Linked DNA regions of Homo sapiens. The protein of the gene in region 1 purifies or fractionates together with the protein of each later gene. This does not show direct contact. Each region holds a gene or a part of one and is shown in the gene's direction. Other genes may lie near its edges. The genes, in order: RELT, ERGIC2, RHOBTB3, AXL, RHBDF2, RAB11FIP1 and MYOF.

What was found.
Region 2: the proteins of RELT (region 1) and ERGIC2 purify together in Homo sapiens (affinity purification with mass spectrometry; one large-scale study listed by BioGRID and IntAct). This does not show direct contact.
Region 3: the proteins of RELT (region 1) and RHOBTB3 purify together in Homo sapiens (affinity purification with mass spectrometry; one large-scale study listed by BioGRID and IntAct). This does not show direct contact.
Region 4: the proteins of RELT (region 1) and AXL purify together in Homo sapiens (affinity purification with mass spectrometry; one large-scale study listed by BioGRID and IntAct). This does not show direct contact.
Region 5: the proteins of RELT (region 1) and RHBDF2 purify together in Homo sapiens (affinity purification with mass spectrometry; one large-scale study listed by BioGRID and IntAct). This does not show direct contact.
Region 6: the proteins of RELT (region 1) and RAB11FIP1 purify together in Homo sapiens (affinity purification with mass spectrometry; 3 studies listed by BioGRID and IntAct, with this or other methods). This does not show direct contact.
Region 7: the proteins of RELT (region 1) and MYOF purify together in Homo sapiens (affinity purification with mass spectrometry; one large-scale study listed by BioGRID and IntAct). This does not show direct contact.

The regions. Positions count from the first base shown.
Region 1 is NC_000011.10:73,385,663-73,390,227, forward strand, and holds part of RELT (tumor necrosis factor receptor superfamily member 19L isoform 1 precursor), read left to right. Parts: intron 1-3,449; 5' UTR 3,450-3,474; coding exon 3,475-3,519; intron 3,520-3,527; exon of another isoform or gene 3,528-4,565. UniProt on the Homo sapiens protein: May play a role in apoptosis. Induces activation of MAPK14/p38 and MAPK8/JNK MAPK cascades, when overexpressed. Involved in dental enamel formation.
Region 2 is NC_000012.12:29,336,313-29,340,538, reverse strand, and holds the end of ERGIC2 (endoplasmic reticulum-Golgi intermediate compartment protein 2), read left to right. Parts: 3' UTR 1-3,187; downstream 3,188-4,226. UniProt on the Homo sapiens protein: Possible role in transport between endoplasmic reticulum and Golgi.
Region 3 is NC_000005.10:95,789,271-95,793,598, forward strand, and holds part of RHOBTB3 (rho-related BTB domain-containing protein 3), read left to right. Parts: intron 1-3,788; coding exon 3,789-3,904; 3' UTR 3,905-4,328. UniProt on the Homo sapiens protein: Rab9-regulated ATPase required for endosome to Golgi transport. Involved in transport vesicle docking at the Golgi complex, possibly by participating in release M6PRBP1/TIP47 from vesicles to permit their efficient docking and fusion at the Golgi.
Region 4 is NC_000019.10:41,256,958-41,260,544, forward strand, and holds part of AXL (tyrosine-protein kinase receptor UFO isoform 1 precursor), read left to right. Parts: intron 1-535; coding exon 536-672; intron 673-2,595; coding exon 2,596-2,947; 3' UTR 2,948-3,587. UniProt on the Homo sapiens protein: Receptor tyrosine kinase that transduces signals from the extracellular matrix into the cytoplasm by binding growth factor GAS6 and which is thus regulating many physiological processes including cell survival, cell proliferation, migration and differentiation.
Region 5 is NC_000017.11:76,490,840-76,495,404, reverse strand, and holds part of RHBDF2 (inactive rhomboid protein 2), read left to right. Parts: intron 1-2,250; exon of another isoform or gene 2,251-2,343; intron 2,344-4,565. UniProt on the Homo sapiens protein: Regulates ADAM17 protease, a sheddase of the epidermal growth factor (EGF) receptor ligands and TNF, thereby plays a role in sleep, cell survival, proliferation, migration and inflammation. Does not exhibit any protease activity on its own.
Region 6 is NC_000008.11:37,889,035-37,893,599, reverse strand, and holds part of RAB11FIP1 (rab11 family-interacting protein 1), read left to right. Parts: intron 1-4,565. UniProt on the Homo sapiens protein: A Rab11 effector protein involved in the endosomal recycling process. Also involved in controlling membrane trafficking along the phagocytic pathway and in phagocytosis. Interaction with RAB14 may function in the process of neurite formation.
Region 7 is NC_000010.11:93,377,192-93,381,756, reverse strand, and holds part of MYOF (myoferlin), read left to right. Parts: intron 1-360; coding exon 361-538; intron 539-1,769; coding exon 1,770-1,894; intron 1,895-4,327; coding exon 4,328-4,434; intron 4,435-4,565. UniProt on the Homo sapiens protein: Calcium/phospholipid-binding protein that plays a role in the plasmalemma repair mechanism of endothelial cells that permits rapid resealing of membranes disrupted by mechanical stress. Involved in endocytic recycling.

The DNA.
Region 1 (4,565 bases):
AGCAGGGCAGAGGAGAAGGGCTGTGGAGAAGGAAATCCCATGACCTACTTTAGCTTCATTACCTCCTTTAAACCCCATGACTGGCTGGGCACAGCGGCTCACACCTGGAATCCCAGTACTTTGGGAGGCCAAGGCGAGAGGATCGCTTGAGCCCAAGAGTTGGAGACCAGCCAGGGCAACATAATGAGACCCCGTCTCTACAGAAAATAAATTTAAAAATTTAGCCAGGCATGGTGGGGCATGCCTGCAGTCCTAGTTACTCAGGAGGCTGAAGCAGGAGGATCACTTAAAAGTTCAAAGTTGCAGTGAGCTGTGATCGTGCTACTGCAGTCCATCCTGGATGGCAGAGTGAGACACTGTCTCAGAAAAAACAAAACAGAAATTCCCCAAAAACTTCGCGACAGCCATGCCAGCAAGATGAACGTCCCCATCTCTGTAGATGAGAAAACTGAGACCCAGTGATGTGAAGGTCCCAAAGGGAGTTGGTGGCAGTGGAGACTGGGCCCCAGGCTAGGAGACATGGGAGGAGTGGCCTCTAAGCCAAGTTCCTTCTCTGCTACCCCCCTGGGGCCCCTCCTCCCCATCCAGTGTGGCTGGGTGTGGCTCTCCTCTGTCAGGCATCGGAGGCTCTGGGGCCTCACTGACTGCCCAGCCTTTAGGATGAGGCAGAGACGGATATGGGACCTTCAGATATCCCCTCCCAGCCGAGGGGGCTTCCATCTAACTGTTTTTTTGGTCACGGTTCCAGGGCCGTTTTAGACAGTGGAGGCCTTGTGGGGCAGGGTGTGAGGGGTGCTGAGCAGCAGGTGTGGACATGTGTGTGCACCAGGCCTTTCTACCTGACCGGGCAAGTCCAGTGGGGGCTCAGTCTGGGCTGAGTGTGGGGGCCGGGCAGCCAGACTGGAGTAAGTGCTGGTTTGGGGTAATGAGAAGGTGCGTAATTAGAAGGTGCAAGGCCCTAGGTGGCAGTGTCTATGCGTGTGCTGGAGTGGGCCCTCGTTGGCTTTGAGTCTGGGCCTTTGGACCCCGCTTTCTTCCTGGAAGGTTCTAGATCACACAGCTCTGCGTCTGTCTGCAGATGAGCAGCTGCACAGCTGCTCCCTGTGGGCTCAGGTCACCTAGCAGGTGCCACCCAGGGTTGGGGTGGTTCTAGGGCTCTCTGCTGTGGTTGCTTGGCCTCTTTTCACCCCCGCATCAGCCCTCTGGGCCTACCTTGGGGACATGGAGGGCTGCTAGAGCTGGGGGCTGGGCTGTTGGGTTGGTCACGGTTCCCCCTGGCTTTGTCTTTTTTTTTTTTTTTTGAGATGGAGTCTTGCTCTGTCGCCCAGGCTGGAGTACAGTGGCACAATCTCGGCTCACTGCAACCTCCACCTCCCAGGTTCAAGCGATTCCCCTGCCTCAGCCTCCCGAGTAGCTGGGATTACAAGTTGTACCACCACACTGGGCTAATTTTTGTATTTTTACTAGAGACGGGGTTTCAGCATCTTGGCCAGGCTGGTCTTGAACTCCTGACCTCGTGATCCACCTGCCTCTGCCTCCCAAAGTGCTGGGATTACAGGCGTGAGCCACCATGCCTGCCACAGCCTGCCCCCACCCCCAGCATCAGGCTCTGTCTTGCGTAGTCAGGCCTAGTGGGGAAGTGAAGCCTGAGGACTTGGGGCTCGTGGTCAGGTCTGTGGGTTAGATCCCTCAAAGGACAGAGGAGGGGCCATGGGGAGACAGGCTCGAGGTGGGAGCTGGGCCCTGACAAGGGCACAGGACACTTTGGGGCAGAAACTGGAAGGAAGACTTGTGACCAAATTTAAGGAGTGACAGGGGACCCTCCCCAAATAGCCTGGGGGTGCCATCTGTTGGGTGTTGACTGCCAGGTGTGGCCTCCACCCTATACTGTGGCCCTACCTTCTCCTGTCCCTGGCTTTCCCCTGAGCTGGCCTGGGACCCAGAGTGGCTGCCAGTGACCTGGAGAGTCCTGAGATGATGTAACTGCTGCCCACTCCCTCCCCTGAGTGTAACTCAAACCCTGGGCCCCTCTGAGATCTGCCAAGAGGGAGGGCGGGTGGACAGATCGGTTTCCTGGGCTGCTATTCTAGGTGGGAGGGCCGGGCTGCCTGCAGGGAGAGGACTCTGAGTGATTTGGGACTACCACAGGAGGCGCTTTTCTCACCTCACCGGCCTTGGAGTCACAGCGGGGGCCTCAGCCGCGGCGGCCCTGAGCCAGTGGCTGGGTTCCCAGGCTGCCCCTGGGCTTAAGAGGCTGCGTGTGGCCTGAAGAGCACGGCTTTCCTCAGCCTCGTGCCCCTGAAGCCAGGCCTCCAGGAAGTACACAGCGGACTTCCTTGCTCTGCCACCTGTCCCTTCTGCTGTCTGATGTGAATCCTTTGTCCTGCTGTGTCCGCCTCGTCCACTGGCCGGAGGCTTCTCCAGAGCAGGCCACCGTCTGGGCCTGGGGGCCTCAGTCTCAGACCGGTGGGCCGTGACGCCACCATGGATATTTCTCTGAAGTATCACACACTGCACTCCCACTCTGCTTTATTTCGTTTCTTGGCACTTACCACCAAATGGCAGGGGCACCTCTCTGTTTGCAGTTGGGTCTCCCCTGGGATGGAGCTCCCTGCAGACAGGGACCTTGTCTGTCTTGTTCATACCGATTTCTCCAGTGCCCGCACGCAGTAGGTGCTGGAGAGATGACAAAGACAGAGCACTGGCTGCCGTGACCACCCCAGCCCCATAGGTCTGCCAGGGGAAGAGCTGTGGCCAGACATGTTCCAGCCTCAAGGGAGGAGTCAGCCTCCCTGGAAGAGGTGTGGACAGTGGCCATGCAGAAGGACCAGGACCTAGATGGGGTGGGGAGCTGTGGGAGCCAGACCCACTTTGGGGAAAGCTTCTAGAGAAGCTTCTGGAAAGAGAGGCCTTCGTGTTGAGCTTTGAAGGGTAAAGGAAAAGGCCTTCCTTGGACCAGAACCAGCAGGAGTGAAGGCAGAGGCCGGGCATGCTTGCAGACCTGTGAGGAGGAGGCGGGGGGAGCCTGAGCCTGGAGCGCTGGGCTGGAGTGTGGAGGCCGGGCTGGGGTGTTGGGTGTTGGTTGCAACCCTGTCATCACGGACACAGGCCGCCACACGCGCTTCCTTCCCCTGCTGATGCCTCGGGGCACCTGGCAGTTTAAGGAAGGGGAAGGAAGCCCTTCCTCCTCTGGGAAGCCTCCCAGCCTGCAGAGCCTTCTTCCTGCCTTCCTGCCTGTGCTGCCCCGTGAGGCCGGCTCCCAGGCAGGGCAGCCCCCTCTGCTTGGGCCTGTGCTTGCGGGTGTGGAGCCGGCCTCCCCGGGCTCTGCCTGCCCAGCAGCACCTTGCCTGCTCCCCATGAGTCCTGTCATCCTGGAAGTGGTGCTGAGGGGACAGCAGCTGCCTGCCTGTCCCTGCCGCTCTGCCGAGCCTCCTCTCCATCTGCCCTAGGCCGGCGACCACCAGGGGCCTGAGGATGAAGCCAAGTCTGCTGTGCCGGCCCCTGTCCTGCTTCCTTATGGTGAGCTGGGGATGGGCCCTGGGAAGGAGAAAAGCCGCACCCTCAGCCCTGCAGCCCTCCAGCAAGAGGGTGCAGACACTCCCGGGGAACCCCCTGCTGGGCAGGGCTCAGTTACTCAGCTCGTCAAGAATCTGAGGCAGCTGGACCCTAGGAAGCACCTCTGGGCCCACCCAGGCTTGTCAGGGAGATGGAGAATGAAGGGCTTGCTGGCATTTATGGGCAAGGCAGGCATGGCTGAGGGCAAGATGCCCATTGGCACGCAGGCATGAGAACGGAGCCCAGCCCAGAGGGTATGCTGGGCACCAAGAGGAAACTGGGCAAAAGAGGCCTGGGATTTGGACCCTGAGAGCCATAGCACCTCAGGTGCTGGGGTTCAAGATCTGTATTGGTCTGGGGGATCCCAGATTCCAGGTCCCAGGATCACAGGATCAGGCCAGCTGCCCGGAGCTGCAGGCAAGTCCACATTACAGACTTGCAGCATCTTGGGGTCTGCCCTGGGGCCCATCTTTCTGCTGTGACGCTAGAAGCTCAGGGAGGGTGAGACTTGGCCTTGGGCCTTGCTAAGGGTTGCTCCATGTACAGGAGGCCTTCCAGCCTTAGCAGGTGCTGGGAGCCGCTCTGGGGTCTGAGGAGATCCCTATTCCATCTCCAGGGCAGCTGATGGTAGCCTCATCCAGCCTAGGCCAAATTGGGGGACTCTAGGAGGGATTCAGGAGAGACAGTTCATTCCTAAGAATGGGAAGCAGAGAGAACTCCTAGTGAAATGGGCTGGGGACACACACTGAGAAGATGGAGCTTTCTTTTGGGATGCGTCTCCCTGTTTGGGTGTGTGGGTGTGAATGGGGTAGCCTCGCCTTGAGGGAAGATTGCAGAGGAGGATGTGGTCCTGGAGACTTTCGCTGAAGGGAGAGCCCAGAATAGGAAGCGCCACCTGCAGACTTGGCTCCAGGGATTATAAATGAGGCTGGTTAATGATATGCCCAGCTGTGATGGGGCCAGGGATGGACCCAAAGTAGGAGGAAGTGGGGGCAGAATACGAGAGAGGA
Region 2 (4,226 bases), on another chromosome or scaffold:
TTATCTAACTGTTGAAGATAGAGTCTTAGAAGACTAAGGTAAATTCTCACAGGGGCAGATATGTAGGTGTTATGTAACTAGGGTGTCATTCACAAATGGTATAGTAGAATCTTATACACGGAAAAGAAAGCACATTTTTTTAAAAAAGATGCCAAGTTTTTTAATCTAATCATTATATTATTGGTGTATTTTGGGCAACATAGGGTGAGTTATAAAAAGATCCGCTACTGATAGTGAAAATTACCGGTTTGTAAAACATTAAGAGAAAAAATAGGATATTTTATACATGTGGTGAGTGGAGAACAGGGTAACTTTAAATGAAAGTGTAAGGCAAATTGTAAGCACCACAAGATATATCAGATTTGAGAGGTGCCATGTTAAACATTGTCCATTAAACTATAAAACTGTATTATGAAGTATTTGCATTCAGGGTGTCCTGAATATGATTGATTCTGTATTAGATTGTGTTCTAACTTTCTTACTATTTAAGGATTGGTTCTAAATCTTCACATTATAAAAGATTAAAAACAGTGAGAGGGAGCTATCACACAGGTACTATTAAAAGCTGTATTTGGAATATGTGTACCAATATCAGTTTTCCTTTTGTAGTACTGAATGGCAGTAGAAGAATCAGCAGCCAATCCTCAAAGTTTAAATCATTTAAGGAAATGGGGAAACAAAATTCCAGGTAAATAACAAGACTGAAAAACTAGATTTAAAATAGTGGTTTTAGAAAACAGGATATCACAAGTAACAGTTTTTCAAATGGATTTTTTTAAAGATAAATTTATGAAAACAGGATAAACAATATAATGGAGAGAAGGAGAAATAGTGATGGGTCTGTTTTGCAGTAAAGTTTATGCAGAATGACGTTTTGCAGAAAATAACAGAAGCATCACTTTAAAAAATATATCATTAAGAGCCATGACGTTAACTGATGAAAATAAGTGATATAACATACTTTGAAAGATTTTTAAACAGAAAATTCTGAATCGTGAATGAGCCTTCTCTAGGTTTTAATTTTTTTTCTTCAAATTATTTCCAACAAAGTTTGGCTATAAACTAACACCATCTATCCACAGGAATTTTAATAGGAAAGGATTAGAATTGTAGACTGATTGTTGGTCCTTTAAGTATGCTTGGAAGAAAATTCAATCGAGTTTCAAGGCTTTTTCTAAATGGGAGGGAGAACAATATTGATTTAGGATTATTTTCTTTCATTTAGGATTAGAACAGTTAAGTGCCTTTAAAAAGGACTTTAAAAATTATTTTGATACTTATATATGATTTTTAATTGTTTTCGTATTTTCCAAATACCATATTAAAATTTTAATGAAATTTATCTCCTATGAAAGGAATTTCTTTAAAGCAAAATTCTGCTTTGCCTTTGATTTCCATTTTAAAAGTTAAAGGCTTCCATCTGAAACTCCTCAAATAGAGTCAGATTTTTGGCAATGGAAGTATTAAAATTCCGATCAGCCCTTTGGACGATGAAGTTTACCTGCATATTAGGATTTGTTAGGAGTTTTTGGCCTCACCAAGTGATTCTTTTCTATTGCAGAGAGCACTTTACTCACCTACCTGTTATGCAACTTTCCCTATGCCTGGAGGTGCCTCCAGCCAGGATACCCTACTTTGTTACCCAATTCTCCTTTTTGTTTTACAAGAGTATTCATAATATCTATATGTTTATATTCCAGACTACATATTTAAAAATGAGATCTCAAATTATATGAAATGGATTTTTAAATACTGTGTTTGCATACATTGACCTATAAAGAAGATTAAATATTTAGGTGAATAATTCCCTGCTGCAGTATTTGTACACTTCAGACTACCTCTTAGGAAAAGCTTAACTTAGTATTGCAAAATTCCCTTTCTCTTTTTTTTTTTAAGAGATGGGGTCTCGCACTGTTGCCCAGGCTGAAGTGCAGTGGCATGATTGTAACTCACTGCATCCTCGAACTCCTGGGTTCAAGCAATCCTCCTGCTTCCATCTGCTGAGTAGGTAGGACTACAGCCATGCACCAACAAACCTGGCTAATTCTTTTTCATTTATATAGTTAGTATCTTGCTGTGTTGTTCAAGCTGGACTCCAACTCCCGGACTCAAGTAATCCTCCCACCTTAGTCTCCTGCATTGCTGGAATTATAGGCACGAGCCACTGCACCTGGCACCCAAATTACTTCTAGTTCTCAAGTTAGATGATTAATATCACACTTTTCTCATGTATGTTTTATGATAGCATTGAATTTTTATAATTAAAAATTTACTAATGCAAACAAGATTTACAGTCTTTAATACAATCTTAATTTTGGAATTCATGAAGGAATGACTAAGTTCTAATTTTTTTTTTTTTTTTTTTGAAACTGAGTCTCGCTCTGTCGCCTAGGCTGGAGTGCAGTGGTGCAATCTCAGCTCACTGCAACCTCCGTCTCCCGGGTTCAAGTGATTCTCCTGCCTCAGCCTGTTGAGTAGCTGGGACTACAGGTGCGTACCACCAAGCCCAGCTAATTTTTTTATATTTTTAGTAGAGACGGGGTTTCACTGTGTTAGCCAGGATGGTCTCAATCTCCTGACCTCATGATCCGCCCACCTTGGCCTCCCAAAGTGTTGGGATTACAGGCATGAGCCACTGCCCCTGGACAGATCTAATTTTTTAATAGTGTAAGAGAGATACACTGTGCATTCCATCTATGTCCTGAGTTAGTAATTCAAGTACCAAAAAGTAATTTAATATGAAACTCCTTGAAAATTCAGAGCTTACACTTGAATTCAAAATGCCTATTTTTGATTGTTTAAAAGTTACTTAAACCTGAGCTTTAGGACCTTTAAAATCTCAGCATGCCTTTTAAGCTAGTACTTTTCCTGTTTTGAGCTCTAGCAAACCTTCAGCAAGCCAAGGTGGTAGCCCTTTTTCAACACAATCAAAATAGAGAGGTCACCAGTTGTTTACTACCTTATGGTAAAATGCCCGGATCAAGATCCATGTATCCCCCCCATATTGTGATGATGCAATCAAAGCATAGTTTTTTTCTACTTTCTGAAATATTACTGATGAAATCACTTTACATTTAAGAGGAGAAAACAGACTGCCTTGGATTTTTTTTTTGTCTTGAGAGAAAAAACAAAATATTTAGTATTGCAAGCATAAACATTTGGACTCAATAAATGACAAATTATGAAACTTTTTTTGTCTTTTTAATACTAGGAGAAAATTAAAATCATGTACCCCCAAATAAGCCTCAGTTCCCATATTTAAACTTTTTTCTCATAGGAAAGCTACAGGAATTTTAAGATATCACATGGTTACATTTGCTTTTCTTCCAGATGGAGCTAAATTGCTATATGATACAGGGTTTATTTTATATTTCTCATATTAAAGATGAAAAAGTGAAAATTGAGTAGTTGACTCAAAATTATATGTATATATATATATATGTTAACAGTTGAATACAAACAAGATTACAAGCAGTGAAACATTCAAATAGTTTTGGCAACTCCAAATATTTTGTGTTTCACAAAAGGAGTTAGGTTAACTTTTCCAAATATAACTCATTTTATACTATTTTAATAAGGAGAAACTTAAGGATGAGAAGGCATGAGGAAAAGTATACATTAGTGAAAGCTATATACTAAAGCAGACCTTCAACAACAGCTCATAACTAATAAATGCTTTGTATTTTGTTTTCAAGCAGTTATGTAAATCAATTTGGTGATTTCTTACACTGTACTTACATTTACTTGACCCAAATTGCCGTATCAATCACATCTCCTATCCCTTTTGCAGTTCCAGGTTGGAATCAGTATTTCAAATAAAGTAGGGACACATCTAAAATATTTGTGTATCGGTAAAGGTGTTTCTGGCTATTTAAACTCAAGCATCCTTTGCCACAGTAGTATCTCCGTTTTGCACGGTACTACTGTCTCTCAAACCAGTTACATCTGAAAACCAGCAATTACTAGTCTTAGTTAATTACAAAAAAAAAAAAAAATTAAGCGATCTAGGCAGTGAGCATTTTTCCATACCTTTATGTGGGCATATGAGAATCATTACTTCTTACTATAGGCAGTTGCTTATGTTCCCAGACATTATTAGAATAGCAGTTCTAGAAGAGTAGCCATGTGGAAATTTACAAGTGATTCTTGTAAACTTTGAAAATTATTGATGTTTTTGGAAACTAGGCTGATCTACTTTAATTGTTTATGTTTATTGTAAGATAACA
Region 3 (4,328 bases), on another chromosome or scaffold:
TATTTAGCTTTATTGTACTGGATATCTGTATTTACTGAGTATACCTATATGGGAGTCCCTTATATTACTTTGGAATAACAGTTTTTCATATATAAAAAATGTTGTGAAACTTACTGGGAGTGTATGTAATATGCTTTCTAAGGTAAATTATAAAAATTAAAACCAAAGTGTGAACTACTGAGTACTGCATAAAAAGAAAAAAATGAAAATATAATAGTTGTCAGAATAGACAGTTTAGATGCAGTGGTTTGCTCATGTTATTATCTAGCATAGACTCAAGGAAAATTTGAGCTAAAAAGAAAAGGAAGTGAAAGATTACCTGATCAAGGAGTTTCACAATCTGGACAAATAAATCTCCGTGGAGATAACTGAAGTGTCTTCTAGGGTGGGGGACAGAAAGTAGGGAGTGGGTGAGGAGAAGGAGAGAGAGAGGGAGTAAGGGAAAGGGAAAGAGAAGGCTAAAATTTACAGTTCTTGGACTCTTCCCTCCCTCCTTCAGTCATAGTAGTTCCACTTTATCTGTTTCATATCTTGAGTTCTACCTAAAATTTTACTTCGTAAAAAAGACTCTGCTGGTAAAAGATATAAAAATCATATGGTCAAGATGGTGATTCCACCTCGGTGTAATCCCAGCCAACTTGGGAGGCTGAGGCTGAAGGATCACTTGAACCCAGGAGTTTGAGTCCAGCCTGAGCAACATAACGAGACTTCTGTCTCTAAAAGAAAAAAGAGTAAAAATCTCTTGTTTTTATTCAGCTACTTGTGCAGTTAAAGAAAACCCAGGAACACACAATCCGTTTTTGGGAGATGTATTCAGCCAGTCAACAAACATTATATGTCTATTAGGAGCCTCCTTATATAAGTCAACTATTAGTACAGTAGAGAAGCATAATCACATCAAAACAAAACAACAGTTATTTATTAGCTATGTACTTTGTGCAAGGAAAAAACAGTCAGTTCATAAAGATAAGGCTTGTGTATGCTTGCTGTCAGAAGGAACATTCTTCTATAGTTATTTAAGTAGCTGCTTCTATAGTTATTTAAGAAGCTTGCTAAAAGTTAAATGAATTGCACTTTGGTCCTGGAGCCAGTTTCATTATGTTACCTGAGGTCACTCTTATTTGTAAGAGAAGAATAAGATTATTTTCTACTTACTATCTTGTATAGATATATGGTATATATGGAGTACTATTACAACCTTGGGAGAAGGATGGTCTATAAATCCTTTTAGTTATGAATTTTCATTATATGGTATTACCCAATTACCTATAAAGTATGTTATGACACCTGGCATGGTGCAAAGCAGGACTTCCAGTGCGATGTGAGGTGGCAGGCTAAGGAGGAAACGATGTGTCGATGTTGCCTTCTGTTCCTTTGATGGGAATTAAAAGGGAATCATGAGAACTCTCATTCTGCAGTGCCTCTTCCTGTCCAGGGTCCTGCTATGAGGTGTCATCCTCTTGGGCAGAGGAAAAAAGCGCCTTTTGGATAAGGGAGAATTTAATTGTCTAAATCAATAGTTACTAACTGGCCATCTATGGTTTAGGTGTAGCCTGCCAACGTGTTTTATTGGGACCCCACAGTTAAAAATATATAGTACTGGTATTTAAAAATAACCATATTTTGGCTTCTTTTGAAAAATTGGAAGATCTGGCTACCCCAGGCCCATCATCCTAGTGGCAACATGTGGCTTGGCGCTGACGGCCCACCTAAAGGAGCATGCCCTCTCCAGAGGGTCGCAGTCACTTCTCTCCAGTGCTTTACACCTGGCCCACTGCACATGGTCACCTGAAGTTGGGAAAGTTTCTTGTCACGGTCACTCTACAGCTTCCTTATAGAACTGTCCATCTTCAGCTTGAAAAGTTCTCAAATTATTATTGGAATTCTACAACTTGTTTTCTGTTGACTGAGAATTTTTCATTTTTAGAGGTGTTTAGAAATCAAAAAGTGAGACTGGAAAAGATGTCATGTCAGTACAGGCACAGATACATCAGAACCCAGTTAAATAGGTCATTAAGTATTAGATTTTTATATACTGGACTCATGAACACAAACAGCGGTGCACAGGAATATGTTACCCTTGGCATTTATGGATTCATTATTCTCGCAGTTTAATTTAGCTCGATATTATGTGTTCTGTGTTATGGGGTTTTGTTTGTTTTGTTTTGCTGGCTGCCAGAGCTCATCTCTAATAACTTTTCTCTGGTTTTTAATATTTACTGAGGGAGTAGTCTCATGTCACCTTTGCTTCCTCTTGAAACTTAGAGCTGAGCAGCTAGTTTGTATGGTCCTGCAGGCTGAATCAAGACCCTGTTAATCTGACTTATAATAGATGAGGTTAAACAGTAGATGGAGAATCAAGTAATTCTCCTGCCTCATCCTCCTCAGTAGCTGGGATTATAGGCATGTGCCGCCACACCCAGCTAATTTTTCTTTTCTTTTCTTTTTTTTTTTTAGTAGAGACGGGGTTTTGCCATGTTGGCCAGGCTGGTGTCAAACTCCTGACCTCAAATAATCCGCCCGCCTCGGCCTCCCAAAGTGGTGGGATTACAGACATGAGCCATCGTGCCTGGCCTCCAGCAAGGTCTTTATGATCTATATCTTGAGTCGACCTCCTATCTCATTCTGTAACCTAGAATGCCTAACTGTCTGGGAATGCAGCCCAGTAGGTTTCAGCCTCATTGTCCCCAGCCCCTATTCAAGATGCAGTTGCTCTAGTTCAAATGCCTCTGACAGTTGTGCTTCACCAAACCTAGAGAATGAACAAAGCGAAGGACCTGGAGTTCAAGAATGGAGGGATCCAACTCCAAGGCAGGAAGCAGGTCCAGAAAGCAGGCAGGGCAGCAGCAACAGGGAAGAACAGCTTATCTGATGACTGGCTGGGTGGGAAGCACAACTGAGAGGACTTGAAGGACTTTGGAAGACTAAGTTAGCTACAAAGAAAACTAAGTATTATACCAAAAAAACTTATCCGGGCGTGGTGACAGGCGCCTGTAGTCCCAGCTACTCGGGAGGCTGAGGCAGGAGAATGGCGTGAACCCGGAAGGCAGAGCTTGCAGTGAGTCCAGATTGCGCCACTGCGCTCCAGCCTGGGCGACAGAGCAAGACTCCGTCTCAGAAAAAAAAAAAAAAGAAAAGAAAAGAAAAGAAAAGAAAAGAAAACTAAGTATTATAAATGGAAAAAAAAAATAAGTCCGTTATATCCAGGAAAAACAAAAGCTTTATTGGAAAAGAAAAGGAAGCCAGGCGTGGTGGCTCATGCCTGTAATCCTAGCACTTTGGGAGTCCAAGGCAGGCAGATCACGAGGTCAGGAGATCGAGACCATCCTGGCCAACAAGGTAAAACCCCGTCTCTACTAAAAATACAAAAAATTAGCTGGGCGTGGTGTCACACGCCTGTAGTCCCAACTACTCGGGAGGCTGAGGCAGGAGAATTGCTTGAACTGGGGAGGCAGAGGTTGCAGTGAGCTGAGATCACGCCACTGCACTCCAGCCTGGGCGACAGAATGAGACTCCATCTCAAAAAAAAAAAAAAAAGAAAAGGAAAATAATGAAATACTACTCGAAGTAGTGGACAAGATATATATAATTGTAAGTCACATAATAACTTAAATCCTGATACTAATTTAACCAAAATGGTAGTAAATTATTTGGGAAAACTTGTGGGAATGGTAGGAGATGTATCACAGAGCTGGATCTCATCTATTAAAGAGGAAATCAATAGCTGATATCTTAATTGATCCATAATAAAACATATTCGGTTAACAGTCTTTTTCTTAAAACTTCAGTGGAAGAACGCAGTTTTGTTGAAAAGCACAGATGGCCGTCGAATATGTACTTGAAGCAGCTTGCGGAATACAGGAAGTATATTCACTCCCGGAAATGTCGTTGCTTAGTAATGTAACCTGGAGCTTTTATACACTACATTTCTTTTTTATTATTATGAAGAATGGGATACCTCCAGGTTCCAGTAAAATTCTTCTGACCGAAACCAATGTGGGTGTTAGAAAAATTACCATATAGCTTAATATGTTTATTAGTTCTCTTTGGAAAAAAACTACCACTGTGGTCTTAAAAGGGAACAAAATATACCATAGGCTAAAACTAAGGCTTTCACTCTAGAATGCAAAGCTGTTTTGCAGCTGTTTTCCCTTAAAGATGTCCTGTTGCTTTAGTGATATTTAGACCCCTCTCAGTTAAGAAATGCTTAGATTAAAAAAAAAAAATTACGTAGGATTAATACAGAAATTTAATCATGTCTGATTAATTGCTCTATTAAAATAAGGGGCATTTAAAGACCCAGCATAACCATTTGTATAATGAGAAAT
Region 4 (3,587 bases), on another chromosome or scaffold:
TATATGTGTGTGATGGTGAGCATGTGTATGCATCCACAAAAGTTACTTATTCATGTGTATACCCGTGTCAAGTATTTTTTATATATATATATTTTTCTTTTTTTGAGATGGAGTCTCGCACTGTCACCCAGGCTGCAGTGCAATGGCATGATCTCAGCTCACTGCAGACTCTGCCTCCCGGGTTCAAGCAATTCTCCTGCCTCAGTCTCCCGAGTAGCTGGGATTACAGGCGCCCACCACCATGCCTAGCTAATTTTTGTATTTTTAGTAGAGACGGGGTTTCACTATATTGGCCAGGCTGGTCTCAAACTCCTGACCTCAGGCAGTCCGCCCACCTCAGCCTCCCAAAGTGCTGGGATTACAGGCATCAGCCACCGCACCCGGCTAAAGTATTATGTTTCTATGAATACTTGTGATGCTCCCAGAGGATGGTTGTGAACATGTGTACATAAGTGTGGGTGTACCCATGAACCTGGGTATTGGTGCGGGTGATTCTGTGCAGGAGAGACTGTCTAATTCCCTCTGCCCCTCACAGTGGTCCTTCGGGGTGACAATGTGGGAGATTGCCACAAGAGGCCAAACCCCATATCCGGGCGTGGAGAACAGCGAGATTTATGACTATCTGCGCCAGGGAAATCGCCTGAAGCAGCCTGCGGACTGTCTGGATGGACTGTGAGGACCCTTAGGTCTCCCCCAACCCAGAATTCATTCCAAACCCCTGACTACCCCCAGATGGCCCTCACAGGTCCAGGACTCTCTATAACCCAGACAGAATCCCTGAGAATGCTGAGTGACCCACTTGCCCCTCACCAATGCTCTGAGTAGGGCCATCACTAACCAGTGGGGTGCAAATCAGCTAAAGGCACCCTTTCCTCCTTTGTCTGTGTGGGCTGAATCAGCCCCCTGGCTCCCCACCCCCAAGCCAGGTATCCTTGGGTAGTGAATAACAGCACAGTCTTACCTGGCGGCCCTGCCTTTGGGACATGCACTCCCAGAGACTTCTCATTCCAGACTCCTGAGCACACCATGCTTCCCCGACATGCTCCTCAACACCTGAGACTCTCTGCAAAACCCTTCAGTTTGTTTTATTGGCCTTCTCCAGACTCAGGTCTCCTCTGAGATATTTGCAGGATCCTTCAGGGAATGCTTACCAAACTTTGCAATATTGGAGTATGCGGAGAAGGCCGTGACATTTAGCTAGCACTTTGAGGGTAAAGAGAGGATGACTTTGGGTCAGGAGGAGACAGCCTGGGGCGTCAGACTCCTCAGTCCACCTTGGGTACTCCAAGAGCTGAGACGAGTAAAAATAACAGCTAACATTTTCATATAACTGACTAGAAGGCACTGTTTTAGGTGCCTGGCATGTGTCAAATCATTTGGTCCTTACCACAGCCATGTGATGTAGATAGGTATCATTATGATTCCCATTCTGCAGATAAGAAAACCCAGTCCTACAGGGAGGGTAATTTATTTTTATTTATTGACTTGAGTCTCGCTCTGTCGCCCAGGCTGGAGCACAATGGCTCCATCTCGGCTCACTGCAACCTCCCAGGTTCTAGCGATTCTCTTGCCTCAGCCTCCCAAGTAGCTGGGACTACAGGCGTGTGCCACCATGCCCAGCTAATTTTTTTTGTATTTTTAGTAGAGATGGGGTTTCACCACCTTAGCCAGGATGGTCTTGATATCGTGACCTCATGATCCACCCGTCCCAGCCTCCCAAAGTGCTGGGATTATAGGCATGAGCCTCCACGCCCAGTCTGGGAGGGTGATTTATTTGCCAAAGATTGCACAGCTGGTGTGTTTGTTATCTATATCCCCAAATCAAGTAGTTTAAAACAACAAACGTTTATTATCTCACACAATTTCTGAAAGTTGGATACTGGGAACAGCTTAGCAGGGTGATTTTGGTTCAGGATCTCTAATGAAGTTACAAAGATATCACTGGGGGCTGCAGTCATCTGAAGGTTGGGACTGGAGGATTGCTTTCAAGGTGGCTTACTCACATGGCTGTAGCAGGAGGCTTCAGTTCGTTGCCATGTGGACCCCTTTGTGGCACTGCTTGAGCTTACTCACAACATGGCAACCCAGGAGAAAGTGCGAGGAAGCCACATGCCTTTTATGACCTAGTCTCAGAAGTCACACACACCATCACTTCTGCCAAATCAGAAGCAAGTCACTAAGTCCTGCCCATGCTCAAGAGGAGAGGATTTATTCTCCGTCTTTTGCAGGGAGGAGGGTCAAAGAATTTATGGACCTATTTTAAACCAGCACAGCTTGTAAGTGGCATAGCCAGGCTTTGATGCAAGTCTGTTCTGGGGAGCTGGAAGGTCTGTTCTAGCAAACCCTCATCAGAATACTACTCCATATACAGACAGGTTTCCCGAGACCCTTCCCAGCTCCTGAGTCTCCCAGGACCCAACTCAGAAATTCTTGGGAATTCCCAAATCCCCATAGATGGCCTCAAACTGCTGAGGCTCCCTATAACCCTCTAAAATGCCCCCAGTCCCCTGAGTGTCCTAAAATGTCCCCAGGCTTCCAGAATGCACCCCTTCTGAGTCCCTGCTCAATCTCCCACCCCTCATTTTGCTGCCCTAGGTATGCCTTGATGTCGCGGTGCTGGGAGCTAAATCCCCAGGACCGGCCAAGTTTTACAGAGCTGCGGGAAGATTTGGAGAACACACTGAAGGCCTTGCCTCCTGCCCAGGAGCCTGACGAAATCCTCTATGTCAACATGGATGAGGGTGGAGGTTATCCTGAACCCCCTGGAGCTGCAGGAGGAGCTGACCCCCCAACCCAGCCAGACCCTAAGGATTCCTGTAGCTGCCTCACTGCGGCTGAGGTCCATCCTGCTGGACGCTATGTCCTCTGCCCTTCCACAACCCCTAGCCCCGCTCAGCCTGCTGATAGGGGCTCCCCAGCAGCCCCAGGGCAGGAGGATGGTGCCTGAGACAACCCTCCACCTGGTACTCCCTCTCAGGATCCAAGCTAAGCACTGCCACTGGGGAAAACTCCACCTTCCCACTTTCCCACCCCACGCCTTATCCCCACTTGCAGCCCTGTCTTCCTACCTATCCCACCTCCATCCCAGACAGGTCCCTCCCCTTCTCTGTGCAGTAGCATCACCTTGAAAGCAGTAGCATCACCATCTGTAAAAGGAAGGGGTTGGATTGCAATATCTGAAGCCCTCCCAGGTGTTAACATTCCAAGACTCTAGAGTCCAAGGTTTAAAGAGTCTAGATTCAAAGGTTCTAGGTTTCAAAGATGCTGTGAGTCTTTGGTTCTAAGGACCTGAAATTCCAAAGTCTCTAATTCTATTAAAGTGCTAAGGTTCTAAGGCCTACTTTTTTTTTTTTTTTTTTTTTTTTTTTTTTTGCGATAGAGTCTCACTGTGTCACCCAGGCTGGAGTGCAGTGGTGCAATCTCGCCTCACTGCAACCTTCACCTACCGAGTTCAAGTGATTTTCCTGCCTTGGCCTCCCAAGTAGCTGGGATTACAGGTGTGTGCCACCACACCCGGCTAATTTTTATATTTTTAGTAGAGACAGGGTTTCACCATGTTGGCCAGGCTGGTCTAAAACTCCTGACCT
Region 5 (4,565 bases), on another chromosome or scaffold:
GCCATCGGGACAGATTTTCACTGTCTGGAGGCAGGTGGAAACCGGGTGGGCTCCTACTTTGTAAGCACAGGACAGTGCCCTGTCTGTGTACATGGGACAGTCACAAACGGAAATGGCCTGGTCACACCTTAGTGTCAAGGAGCCTCCAGCAGGAGTGAAACGGACCTCTCACACAGACCCCAGGCTGCATCTCATCCTGCCCCAACCGCTGGGCTTGTGCTGGACCACCACTGCTTCCAAGGACCCGTGAAAACCCGGCTGCCGGGATGCAGAGAGGCAGACTTTCATGAACGTTTGCAGCAAAGGGCAGTTCCCACCGAGCCTGTGTTGCTGTGGCACTGTGTGGTGCACACCCCACCCCGGAAACCCTCCAGTGTCCTGGTGTCTGACCCCAAATGGACAGGGCCTTTTGGCCCCCAGGGGCCACTTCTGACTCCTCCCCTTCACAACGATGCTGAGGGAGCAGGAGAACTGGGGCCCGGCTGCTGTGCGTGCCCCCTTCCCTTCATTGCCCCAAAGCCTGCAGTCCAGCCCCAGGCTCGGGAGCTGCTGCCTCTTCCCTGGGATGTGGAAGGCACCTGCATCCCCGCCCAGCTGCTGCCACTTGCCTGCCTCCATCAGCAGCTTTGTTTTATTTTGTCTGTGTGTTTTTTGAGATGGAGTCTTGCTCTGTCGCCCAGGCTGGAGTGCAGTGGCGTGATCTCGGCTCACTTCAACCTCCGCCTCCCAGGTTCAAGCGATTCTTCTGCCTCAGCCTCCTCAGTAGCTGGGATTACAGGCACCCGCCACCATGCCTGGCTAATTTTTGTATTTTTAGTAGAGATGGGGTTTCACCATGTTGGCCAGGCTAGTCTAGAACTCCTGACCTCAGGTGATCTGCCCACCTCAGCCTCCCAAAGTGCTGGGATTACAGGTGTGAGCCACTGTGCCCAGCCTCCACCAGCAGCTTTTGAAATCCAGAAATTTCCAGGGGAGGGCACTGTGGTGGGTGGGGCCCAGCGCTGTGTCCAGCTCGAGGCCTGGCTGCACTGCCACCTCCTTTGGTGCCCACCCCTGTGTCTTGCCAGCAGCTGCTGCACATTGGGCTTCGGGGATGCAGGACTCCAGCACCCCCAGCTCAGCCTGCTTCCTGGACCAGGAACCCCAGCCGAGGAGGGGGCATTTGTATCTCTGCCATCCCTGCTGGCAACTGGTCCTGAGAAAGCCCAGATGGTTGGTGCAGAGGGGGCGTCAGGGGCTGCACCACCCTAAGAACATGACATGTCACCCCCCAGCCCCCCGCAACACACACACACAGGTTCACACCTCACACCCCTGATCTTGGCGGCTCCCTGGAGCACAGCACCCGCTTCCCGTGTCTGTGGTTGGCTTATGACGCCCCAGCCACTCTAACCGGGTTAAGGGGAGCCCAGAGCCTGGGGCCGGATAGGAAAAAGCCCAGAGAAGTCAGGGGATGGTCAGTCCCCTGAAGCTGCCCCTGGGGGTTCTTGATCTTCTGAACTGAGTTCGAGGCAAGCCCTGGAGGGGCGAGGAGGAGAAAGAAACAGCTCTCTGGGCCAGGACCCGCTGTTCGTGGGATGTCTGGGGAGCTGTGTGAACCCACAGGCCGTTTTGTTTCTCTCCATCAGCAGCTGTGGGCTGAAGCGTGTACCGGCGGAGTGGGTTGAGATCGTGTCTGCGCCCACTTGCCACCAGCTCCGGCCTCTGGGGAGGTGGTGCTGAGAGGGAGGGAGAGTGGCTCCTGTTTGGCTCCTGGAGACAGACAGCTGGGTGTCCCACCCTCAGAGTCCCCAGCCCCCTCTCCCCTCTGCTAACTCTGCCGGTGGAGCTCACGCCGCAGCTCATGCCAACCCTGCCCTTCTGTTTTGCCTCTCATGACTCTCCCCAAATTCTGCCCCCAGGCCCCCAGCCAGCCTTCTTGCCACTTTCCTGCCCTTTACTCTTGCCCCTTCTACCTCTTGCCAGGGCAGCGTCACTGGCTACGTGAGGCCCAGCTTGGGGATGCATGGGGAGGTGTAAGAACAGCTGTGCCATGAGCTGTCCTTCCGGGCCTCTGGGGCTGGAGAAACCCCGGGGTCAGCAGTACCACGGGTTTTGCTGGGGATTGCACAGTGGGTGAGGCTCAGCTTCCTCTTTGCAGCTTTCTAAAAATGCCCTGGTTCCCAGCAGGGCCACAGGCAGGGAAAATGAGTTTCAGTTTCTGTGGCAAGGGAGCTGGGGAGAGAAGCAGTTTCCTTGTCCCCAGCCCTCACCCTAGCATCCTGTGATTCAGCCGCGAAGACGTGGCCCCAAGCCTCCCACCGCCCTCCTTCTGTCCTGACTGCCCACTCCCAGGGACACCAGGTGACGCCTCGCCCACCCGCGGCTCCGGAGCCAGGCTGGAAGCAGCTTCCCGCCCAGGGGGTGGTTTCCCCACATCCTGTCTTCAGATGGCTTGAGCCCCCTAAACTTCCTGGTCATATCCAGTGGATAATAATGGTCTCCCTCTTTCCTGTCTGGAGGGGAGGGGGCTGCTTACTTCTTATCCAAGGGCCTGTCCCGTCCCACCCCTGTGTCCCCATTTCTGGCCACACGCAGGCTCAGCCCTTGCATCAAGCCTCTGCCTGTTTCCCTCTGGGCTGCACCTGTCACGCTCTCCCTGCCCTGCCCCATAAAGCCCATAGAGCCCAGGGCTTGTGGGGACTGCACCCTTCATTAGCAAGACTCAGAGCTTCTAGAAACCCACTTGTGTGGGGGTGGGGAGTGCAGGGAGATTGGTGGCACCAGGTGGAGAGAGGGAACTGCACCTGGGGGAGTTGGGAGGGGCAGTGGGCTGGGCCCGCGTGGAGGAGTGTGGCTTGTACAGTCCGCATGGCGGGGGGACCCTTGTACCCTGCCTGGACTGGCTGGTAGAGCTGTTGGGGACCTCCCTGGGGGTGGCCTTGCTTACCCAGCTGTGCGGAACAGGCTTGGTTGGGAGTGCCTGGCCTCACCCTTTGTGGGGAAACCAGATTCTCTGGGCAGCAGTGGTAAATGGTGTCTGAGTCTGTGTTTCGTTGGATGTGTCTGAGGTCCGCTGCTGCCAGCTGGGTTATGCTGTCTCCAAAGCTATCTGCAGTGGGGGAGGCCCTGAGCCTGGGCAGGGGAGGGTACAGAGGCCTCAACCCATGGGACCTGGGGGTGATCTGAACTCTGCACTTCACTTTTTTTCAGGATTTCCCCCGCCCCACCCTAAAGGAGGAGGAAATAGAGTCTGTCCCACCCTAAGCCCCAGTCCCTCTCCCCAGGTCTCTTTGGCATCTCCCAGCTGGGCTGGGGCTGAAGGCCCTTCTCTGGGGTTGGCCACAGTGAGGCCAGGATCTGGCTGGGCAGGTGGCAGTGTTCCGCCTGTGGGCTGGGTGCGGAGGCGGGCCTGGGGGTCTTAGAGAGAGAGCGGCGGATGTGACTGCGGGCCAGGAGGAAGCCTGGTCCCAGGATGTCACCATTTCCCCTGCAGTGAGCAAGCATCTCTAGGGCTCGGAGATAAGTGCTGGGTGGGGTAGCTCCAGCTCTCCAGCGCTTTTTTCTGTCTGGTTCCTGCCATCTGGACTTGAGCCATGAGGAAGGCCAGAGTGGGTCTGACAGTCCCCACTCCTTTCCCCGCTGAGCCCCAAGGAAGGGGCTGGGCCTTTGCACCCCCACCCCAACTTCTGCACGAGTTGGAGGCAGTTGATCTCAATGGTGGAAAGTGGCTGGTGCAAAGTCATGCTTCCATACTCCATGTTTAGGCTTCATGGGTGTCAAAGCTGGGCCGTGACCTTGTCCCATTCCCTCAGAGAAGGGAACTGAGGCCAGAGGGTGGAGCTGCTCTCAGGCCGCTGCCCAGGCCTCTTGTGCTCTGCGGTTCAGATGGCACTCCCGATGCCAGGCTCCTGCCCAGGAAGACATGCCCACCCGCCCTGGCCCTGTCTCTGCTGTCTGGTGTCAGGCCACCTCTCTTCGGGACCCCCCCCCAACTGATTGCCCTGGGGCTGACCAGGCTCTCCTCTCCCTCAGTGTTGGGTTTTGGGAGCCTCTCTCATCAGGAGGTTGGCACAGATGCCAGCCATGCAGCGGATCCTGGGCAGGGGTCTCAGCTGGGATGGCCTGGCCTTGGGACAGGGAGGCTGGCTGGGCAGAACCCTAGAACCAAAAGCGGTGCCTGTGGTGGGCTAGGGAGCTAGGTGGGGAGTCTAGTGGGGAGTCTAGTGGGGAGGTCCACTAGACACTCGTTCTGGCACAGCATGCAGCGTCCTCCATCCTGGCCCTGCTGTGGGTACGGAGCCAGCAGGGCAGGAGCTCTCAGTGGAGCCCTCCAAAGAGGGCTGCTTCCTGGACCAGCTGCAGGATGAGGGAGACCCCTTCTGTCCAGGGCTGACATAGGCTGACCACCGCCAGCCCCACCCTCTCACTAGCTTCCCATTCAGTTAGCCATTGATGAGGGCTCACTGGGTGCAGGATCCTGGGCTGCCCGGGGTTGGGTAGGGGACTCCTACATGTAGGTAAATCCGCGAGATGCTGGAGAGAGCAGGCAATAAAGTGGTTGATTCTCTCTGGAGGTGACATTT
Region 6 (4,565 bases), on another chromosome or scaffold:
ATGTTACAGGCTGTGCTTGAACTCCAGGGCTCAAGCAGTCCTCCTGCTGTAGCCTCCTGAAGTGCTGGGATTACAGGTGTGCGCCACCTTGCTCAGCCTCATCCATTCTTGTAGTCAATATTTTTTAATGCCTACTATGTGCCAGGTGCTAGATATACAGTGTAAACAATGGTGAAGAAAACAGGGATGATCCCTGCTTTCAGGAAGCCCAGAGCCTTGTAGGGGAGTAGGCATTAAACGAATGAACATGTAATCTCAGCACTTTGGGAGGCCGAGGCAGGGGGATCACCTAAGGTCAGGAGTTCGAGACCAGCCTGGCCAACATGGTGAAATCCTGTCTCTCCTAAAAATACAAAAATTAGCTGAGTGTGGTCGTGTGCACCTGTAATCCTGGCTACTTGGGAGGCTGAAGCAGGATAATTGCTTGAACCCAGGAGGCAGAGATTGCAGTGAGCCGAGATTGCTCCACTGCACTCCAGCCTGGGCTATAGAGTGAGATTCTGTCTCAAAAAAAAAAAAAAAAGAAAAAAGAACTCACAAATAAATAATCATATATTGTGGTAAGTACTGTGGAGAAAGAGGACAGGATATTATAGAAGAAAAGGGCAGGAAGGACATGATTTAAAGAAGGAGATTGCAGGTAGCCTCTCTGAGGCAGAGAGCTGAAGAAAGAAGAGGAATTTTTCTAGTGAGGAGTGGAGGAAGGGGGCCTGGTGGAGGAGTAGCAGCCTGTGCAAAGGCCCTGAGGCAGGAATACCTGGGAAGTGGGGGCGTGCTTGTGTAAGATGAGGCTGAAGAGGAAGGCGAGGCTTTACTTAGGAGGAATGGTAAGCCACTGAGTGTTAAAATTAAAAGCAGTGGGGGCTGGGCACAGTGGCTTACACCTATAATCCCAGTACTTTGGGAGGCCAAGGTGGGTGGATCACCTGAGGTCAGGAGTTTGAGACCAGCCTGGCCCAACATGGGCTCTACTAAAAGTACAAAAATTAGCTGGCCATGGTGGCGGGTGCCTGTAATCCCAGGAGGCTGAGGCAGGAGAATTGCTTGAACCTGGGAAGCAGAGGTTGCGGTGAGCTGAGACTGCGCCATTGCACTCCAGCCTGGGCAACAAGAGCAAAACTCCGTCTCAAAATAAATAAATAAATAAATAAATAAATAAATAAATAAATAAATATAAATAAAAGTAGTGGGTTGATACGGTCCAATTTATTTGTCAGAGATCACCGTGGCTCTTGGGTAGAGAATGGATTTGAAGCTGGCCTAACCTAGAATTGGACAGACAAAATGGGAGGCTGTTGCAGTAATCTAGATGGTGGATGGTGGTGGCTTGGACTAGAATGATGTCCAAGCCACCTGTGGAGGTGGACAGAGGTGGTGGATTTAAGAAATATCTTGGAGGTTCAACTGACCTGACATATGATGGATTGGATATGGTAGGGTGAGAGGGAAAGAAAGTAATAAGAATGAACACATAAAATCAGGAGAGCTTGGTGTTGAAAGTGAACCAGGAAGTGGCAGCTGCTTTCTTTCCCTTACAGTCACTGTGATACCAGGGTGAGGTCACCATTACAAAGACAGCTTTGGGCTGTGACACCTGTGAGTGGAGATTTCTGTTGGAGATTTCTGTTGAAGTGAATTACTAGGAAATGCCATTGAAACCAGGGCGTGTATGTATGTGTCTGCAAGTGATTACCCACTCAGTACCGCCAAGTCTTTGTCTTGTAACAGCAGAGCTGCTGTGATCTCATTGATGTGCTGTCACACAGCAGATGAAGTCACTGCTTTAAGGGATATAGGACTAAGAAAAGGAGAACATAATATATAACATTAGTAAAGTTAGACCCATAAATGAAAAAAAAATTCTCAAGTAAGTGAACCAGTTAAATGTTTTTTGCATTACGAACTGTAAGCATAGAAAAGAGTCTTGTGCCTTTCTCATTTTACTTAAACTGCCTTTGGTTACAAAGACTTCTATTGTATTTCTGTAACTCCCATCAGAGGAAGGTTTTTATAAATAGTATCTGATATGTCATTTTAATTGTAGTTATTAACTAAAAAATGTTATAATTACATTACAAGCAATCCACATGCTTATTAAAATGCCATCAACTCTAACATGTATTTGCTGACATTACTCTTCCTATCCCTTAACAATAATCTTAGACATCCATTAAGATACTATGGTTTTCATTGCTATACGCCCTGGAAAATTGTGCTTCTTACCCTATACTTTTGAAGGAGGGACAGCTAGCTCTGGCTTAGCTCCAGAAGGATTAAGAAGGTCTAGCCTTGAATAGAGAGAGTGATGGGAGGTCATTTTAGGCCTTATCTTCATCTCAGAGCACTTCCCTAGGTGGCCTTTGGTTCTGGGTCTGGCACAGATCTCTAGACCTAAGGGTCTCTGAATTACAACAAAATTAACCCCCAGACCCTTGTATTGGCAACGAGAGAGGTTTTGCTCTCCATAAGATGTCCTGGTTCAGATCTCATGCCCCAGCTGGCTCAGGAGGAGACCAAGCCTGACTTTGCCCTGTTTTCCTCTGGGACAGGGACCATGTCTGTTGTGTCCTTTGCTGTGTTACCCAGCGTAGGGGCTCAATAAATGCATCTGTGAGGGAGGCAGTGGTTGTGGTTCCTGTAGGCACAGGGCAGGCAGTAGATTGCCTGGGTGAACGTGGAGAAGCATTTAATCTTATGTTTAGCCTGGTAGATTACAGACTGGGGATGTCCGAAGTATGAAATCAAAGCTCTGCTTCTTTTGGTTTCCCAGTTTGGGGTATGGCTTTGTGGTCAGTGCCCTTTTCTTCTTCTTTTTTTTTTTTTTTTGGCAGAATTTTGCTCTTGTTGCCCAGGCTGGAGTGCAATGCCTCAATCTCAGCTCACTGCAACCTCCGCCTCCCAGGTTCAAGCAATGATTCTCCTTCCTCAGCCTCCTGAGTACCCTTTTCTTCTTGAAGAAGCAGGTTACTTTCTGCGGCTTGCTGGCTAATGATGCCTGTGGCAAAGGAGGCAGTTTTCACCACTAATGAGACAGAAATTCCTCTCCTGCAGGGAGACGATTGTTGATAATCTGTTAGAGGAAAATCAAGGGCTTTAGTCTCCAGGGTGTTCCTGGGGGACACATTTAGGAATGTGCCTGTGGAGAGAAAAAAGGCAATGGTAATTAAGTATCTTTTCCTGAATGCTGGCCTTTGAATGGAGTAGAGGGAAGGCATTTATAAGAAATCCCCAAAAAATATTTCTAGAGGTGTGACTGCCACTTCACTTTTTAAAAAAGGACATGGCTAGCGTCTAGGTAGAACAATTAAGGCCTCTAGAAAGCCTGGTCTAAAGAGGCCTCTGGTTATTATAAAAGAATGGGCATCCTGTGTGAAATACAGTAGCAGTCGACTGGGGCCCCAGATGTTTCTTCAGTCTGCTCCTTTCCCATGCAGAGAACTGTGACATGTGGTTCACCAAAATAGAACTTTTCATTTTTACTAATCATTTGTTATTAAAACAGGATTTAGAAATGCTTTGGTGAGGCCAGGCTCATGCCTGTAATCCCAGCACTTTGGGAGGCCGAGGTGGGTGGATCACTTGAGGTCAGGAGTTCGAGACCAGCCTGGCCAACATGGTGAAACCTTGTTTCTACTAAAAACACAAAAAATTAGCCAGGTATGGTGGCGGGCACCTGTTATCCCAGCTACTCAGGTGGCTGAGGCAGAAGAATCACTTGAACCTGGGAGGCAGAGCTTGCGGTGAGCCAAGATCCCGCCACTGCACTCCAGCCCGGGTGACTCTGTCTCAAAGAAAAAAAAAAAGAAATGCTTTTGGTGTAATTATTTTCCCTTCCTTTGGACTTACCTTGCTTATGGAATAAATCATAGATACTCTGCTTCCTTGCCAGAAACTCTCATGGCAAGAAGTATGGGAGTTTATGTGGTGAGGAAGGGCTGAGTGTTCTCTGATGTCAGTCATGCTGAAGTTTGTTTTCTTTTGTCCTGGTTAAGGGGTGGTGAACCAAACTATTGCATTTTATTTTTCCATTCTTAAAGTCTCTGTATGTGAGGACCCCATGGTTGCCCCAAGACAATATTCTTTGACAGAACAAATAAATGCATCAGTGGCATTTACATTTGAGCAAGAGGTGAGATACTGGATTTGATGGTAGAATATTAACATATGTGGCTTTTTGAGATAGGATCGAGCTTTGTAAAGAATTGGTAAGTCATGATGATGGGTGTGGTAGACTTAAATGTTTAAAAATGAGTTAATTTTTCTAATTCTTAGAGAATTGTTAAAATAAAGATGCTTGGTATTTCCTTTAGTCTTCACCTACAAGAAATTTAGTATTGCTCTCCACTTAGAAAACCTATCTTGATTCATAGACTTAATTATGCCATCTTGGCCTATTTCTGAGAGTTCGAGGGCCCTCTGTTTCTTGTCTCTTTCTTTTCTGTGTAGAAACCCTGAAGGGGTCCATAAGGATCATGACATCTCTCAATAAGTTGCGGAAAGTAAAGCCGGGCGCGGTGGCTCATGCCTGTAATCCCAGCACTTTGCGAGGCCGAGGCGGGCAGATC
Region 7 (4,565 bases), on another chromosome or scaffold:
CCCAAAAAATATACTCTTTTTTCATGGTTGCACATATGGACCTAATTAAGTCTTTTTATGAACCTTCATTCTATTTTATGGATATAACATAACTTGTTTAACAAGTGGTCTACTGAAAGACTTGTGTACTGTTTTCATTTCTTCCCCTCCATTTCAATCAATGCTGCCAGGAACATCCTAGTGCTTCTATCTTTGCTCACTTGTATGAGTGCAAGAGGAACAGCTGGGTCCAAGAACATTCTCCCCTGTCATTTAATTCAGCACTAATTATTAGGTGTAGAATTGCGTCTCCTAGAAATCCACATGTAAATAAGAACAAATGGCCTTTCACTGAACCTTATGTCTGCTCATACTTTATAGAAATACCAGCGAAGGCGGAAGTACAGCCTGTCTGCCGTGTTTCATTCAGCCACCATGTTGCAAGATGTTGGTGAGGCCATTCAGTTTGAAGTCAGCATTGGGAACTATGGCAACAAGTTTGACACCACCTGTAAGCCTTTGGCATCAACAACTCAGTACAGCCGTGCTGTATTTGATGGTAAGATTGGCACTAACAGTTCTCTCCACACGTTTACAATGGGTGCACCACGGGACCGGAAGCAAGCACTGTGTCTTCCCTCTGGCACTGTTCTACGCAGCCTATGGTTAGTGGAAAGGAAAAGGTTGAATGAGGAAGAGAGTGTGGTTGGGGTTCAGGCACCTTAAAGACTGGCCAGACCCAAGAAGTTGCAGGTCCCATTGCCAGAGGCTGAACCCCAATGCTACCCTCTCCCCACCCAGCTTTAACAATGGTTTTGCCATGTAAGACCCCAAGGTAGCCACTGTGCTAAGTTCTGAGCTCCGCAAAGCAGCTCCTACCCCTACGAAGCCCCAAATCTTTCTTAGGCTGAGTAGTGGAAAATGAATGGGACTCTGGATCAGCTACTGGGAAATCATGCTTCTGGTCTTCACTCTGTTACTCACCAGCTTGTGACCTTAACCGTGTCACTGAATTCTAACCCTCAGTTTCTTCGTCTTCTCTGGAGTTGACATGAGGATTAAATAGCTGTATTTGAACAAAGATGGGTGAGAAACAGTCCCTGATTTTAAGGAGCTTACATTCTAGTGTATAAAATAAATCATAATAGAAAGCAAAGTATGAGAACTTCCAATAAAACTGTCAACAAATGGTTTGAGAGTACAGAGAAGGGAGAGAGGAATACTGATCAAATTTCCCAACAGTATTGCCAGAGTTTTAACTTAATTTTTGTACAAGCAGTTTTAAAATGTAAGACATCCTAGGAAACATCAGCTAATAATTCTTAATCACAGTAAGGCTCTAGTACCAAACCCTATGTAGCCAGCTAAAGCTTTCCAAGAACAGAAAATTCTTTTCTTTTGCCCCAGTTCCAACAAAAACATTTATTTAGAATAACAGTTTTTAGGGACTAACATGTTCAGTCTAGCTTCCTATGTCATCTGTATTTTCTACTACCACGTTAAGAAACCATCTTTGATGTTCAGATGCATGGCCCTGAATCACTAAACGATCCTGAGATTGCTGTGCTCAGTTTACTAGGGTGTCTCAGAGAAAATTTCAGAACAGCCTGAATGAAAAAGAGCTTCCTAGTCTTCAGTTGCTTAATTGAGTCAAATTAAAGAACCAGACCACCTCAAGCTATTCCCCAAGCCTGTGGATTAATCAGCAGCTCAGTCTGCACATCTCTTTAATAAACATGCTGTCTATTTTAAGTGTTCAGTGTTCATTGACCCCCAATGTTTTATACCAGGCAACTACTATTATTACTTGCCTTGGGCCCACACCAAGCCAGTTGTTACCCTGACTTCATACTGGGAGGATATTAGTCATCGCCTGGATGCGGTGAACACTCTCCTAGCTATGGCAGAACGGCTGGTAAGTTTCTCTTTTTCTGCATTTCCTTTTCACCAAGCAGGGTGAATTAGGTATTAGGATGGAGGCCAGGCCACTATAACACAAGAAAGTGCTTAGTACAGTGATCAATAAGGTAAGAGCAATGTCTCTAGGAACAGTGGAGGTAGATGGTCCTAAGTTAGTATGGAGGTTCAGTGGTATTGGAGACCCAGGCTCTTACCCCCGGTTGCTCTGCCATCACTCAGGAGTTATCATTGTCTGCATGGTAGAGGCAGCTCACTACTACATCTGCCCTCCAGCCTGAGGGGAGGGCTGGTAAACAGTGGGGAGAAGATGACATAGGCCTTTCTCTTGAAGGGAAGGATGCAGAAGTCATACTCTTAATTTCTACTCACTTTCCACTGGCCAGAATCCAGTCATACAGCCACATGTGACTCCAACGAAGGTGGAAAATGTTAGTCTTATGCCTGGGCAGGCATATGCCCAGATAAAAATTTTCTTACTTTGGAAGAGGGGAGGATTAAAAAGGTAGGAGTGGGGTGGAACAGGAACTCATAGTTTCTGCCGTAATTTTTGTGTAGAGAGAATGGTTCATTCCAATAGCAATATGAAACTCTGAGAACTTTGCAGTGGAAATCTCCACTGCAGGAAGAGGTAGCTTTGAGGAACCAGTGTCTGACACATTCCACTCTTGCTGCAGACTAGAGGAACTTCTTTTGTTTGGAGGTTGGGGATTTCCTTGGGTGAAAACTGCATACATATGATATCTGTGATTATCTGTCTAGTTGACATTGGTCAACTAGATTGGTGAGGAGAAGGGGGATATGTCTGTGATATTTCTAATTAAGCAAAAATACTAAGTTACTTGGGCCAGGTGCAGTGGCTCACGCCAGTAATCCCAGCACTTTGGGATACCAAGGTGGGCAGATCATTTGAGATCAGGAGTTAGAGACCAGCCTGGCCAGCATGGTGAAACCCTGTCTCTACTAAAAATACAAAAGAAATTACCTGGGCATGGTGATGTGAGCCTATAATCCCAGCTACTAGGGTGGCTGAGACAGGAGAATCACTTGAACCCGGGAGACGGAGGTTGCAGTGAGCCAAGATGGCGCCATTGCACTCCAGCCTGGACAAATTGAGACTCTGTCTAAAAAGATAAATATATACATATATATATATATATATATATACACACACACACATACACACACACATATACACATATACTAAGTTACTCCTATCAGGTAGTGCTAAAATCCATCTGGCATTGGTGTTTTGATTTCAACATTATGTTAATATTAATTTTTTAAAGATCTAATCTCTACCAGGGCTGGACCAAAACATATGGGGTTTCAGGAGTATACTTGATCTAAAACTCGACGGCAAAATCTGAAATATCATTTTATGTTATAAAGGCAATCTGGGAGGATAACTATAGGTTTAAATTGACTTAATCATAACTGTCCTGAAAATAAAGTTGCAATTGATAGGCAATGTACATCTCAAAGGCATTTGTGGAGAATTAGTTGCACCTGTGTTCTAATTGTGTTTGAGATGCTCTTCAGCAATTTTCATCCTGGTTCTTCTTATCAGCTCTCTCCACTGACCAGGCTGCCTAATCTGGACAGGATGGTGGCTTTCCCTTTTCCCTGATTAGGACTTTTGACAGTCATGGTAGGCTCTTCCTCAACTTCTCTGTTGGCAGGTGCTCAATGGAATAGAACCATATGTTTTGAGCTTATCTTGTACTTTCTCTGCCCCAGTCCGTAAATCGCTATTTCTCCAAGCAGCTTTTTCCTTTGAGTGGGGAATAGCATTTTAGAAACAAAATCTGGGTATACAGTGCTCACTACTACTGAAATATCATTGCTTCTAGGCCTTCTCAGCAAACGAATTTGCACAGACACATGTATGTCTATTTATTTCTATATCTATCAATATATTAAAAGCTATGACTTCATAAAGATACTTCCAATTCCAGTCCAATACCACAAGGTTTATCCTAGTCCTCTGTATTTCTATGTCTCTAACTTTCTTCTCCAACAGTGAGAAATCTGGCCTTTGTTATCCTCAATATATTTACTCCTTGGTTCAATCCTAAAATCTGTAGATAAACCACTGTGAAAAATAAGCCTACTAATTAGAGTTCAATATGTTTATGGGTTTTTTTTTTCTGCCTTTTAACAAAGTGTACATAGTCAAAATACTGTGTTCCAAAAGTTACTTGGGTTAGTTTAGTGTAATTATGTTATTCATCTGAAATGTAATTAGATCTGTTTTATTTCTGGTTATATTCCACTTTAGGGTTCCCTCTCCTATCTTTGCTGGTTTCATTTTATTTGTTTTTTGAATATACAAAAATATTTACATGATTTCACAGGTTAAACTATATGAAAAGGTATAATGGCATAATGAACAATTATCAATTATTTCCTCTCTTTTCAAATTCTTCAGCAAACAAATATAGAAGCTCTAAAATCAGGGATACAAGGTAAAATTCCTGCAAACCAGCTGGCTGAATTGTGGCTGAAGCTGATAGATGAAGTTATAGAAGACACGAGGTACAGTGATCTTACGCCTATCTCAGAATTTTCATCCAGGCGCTCCTCCCTGAAATTCTAAGACTGTAAATCCTGTGGAATTGTTTCTAGTGTTTGTCTAAGAAGTGATTTTGAATTATTCAAACTTCGTA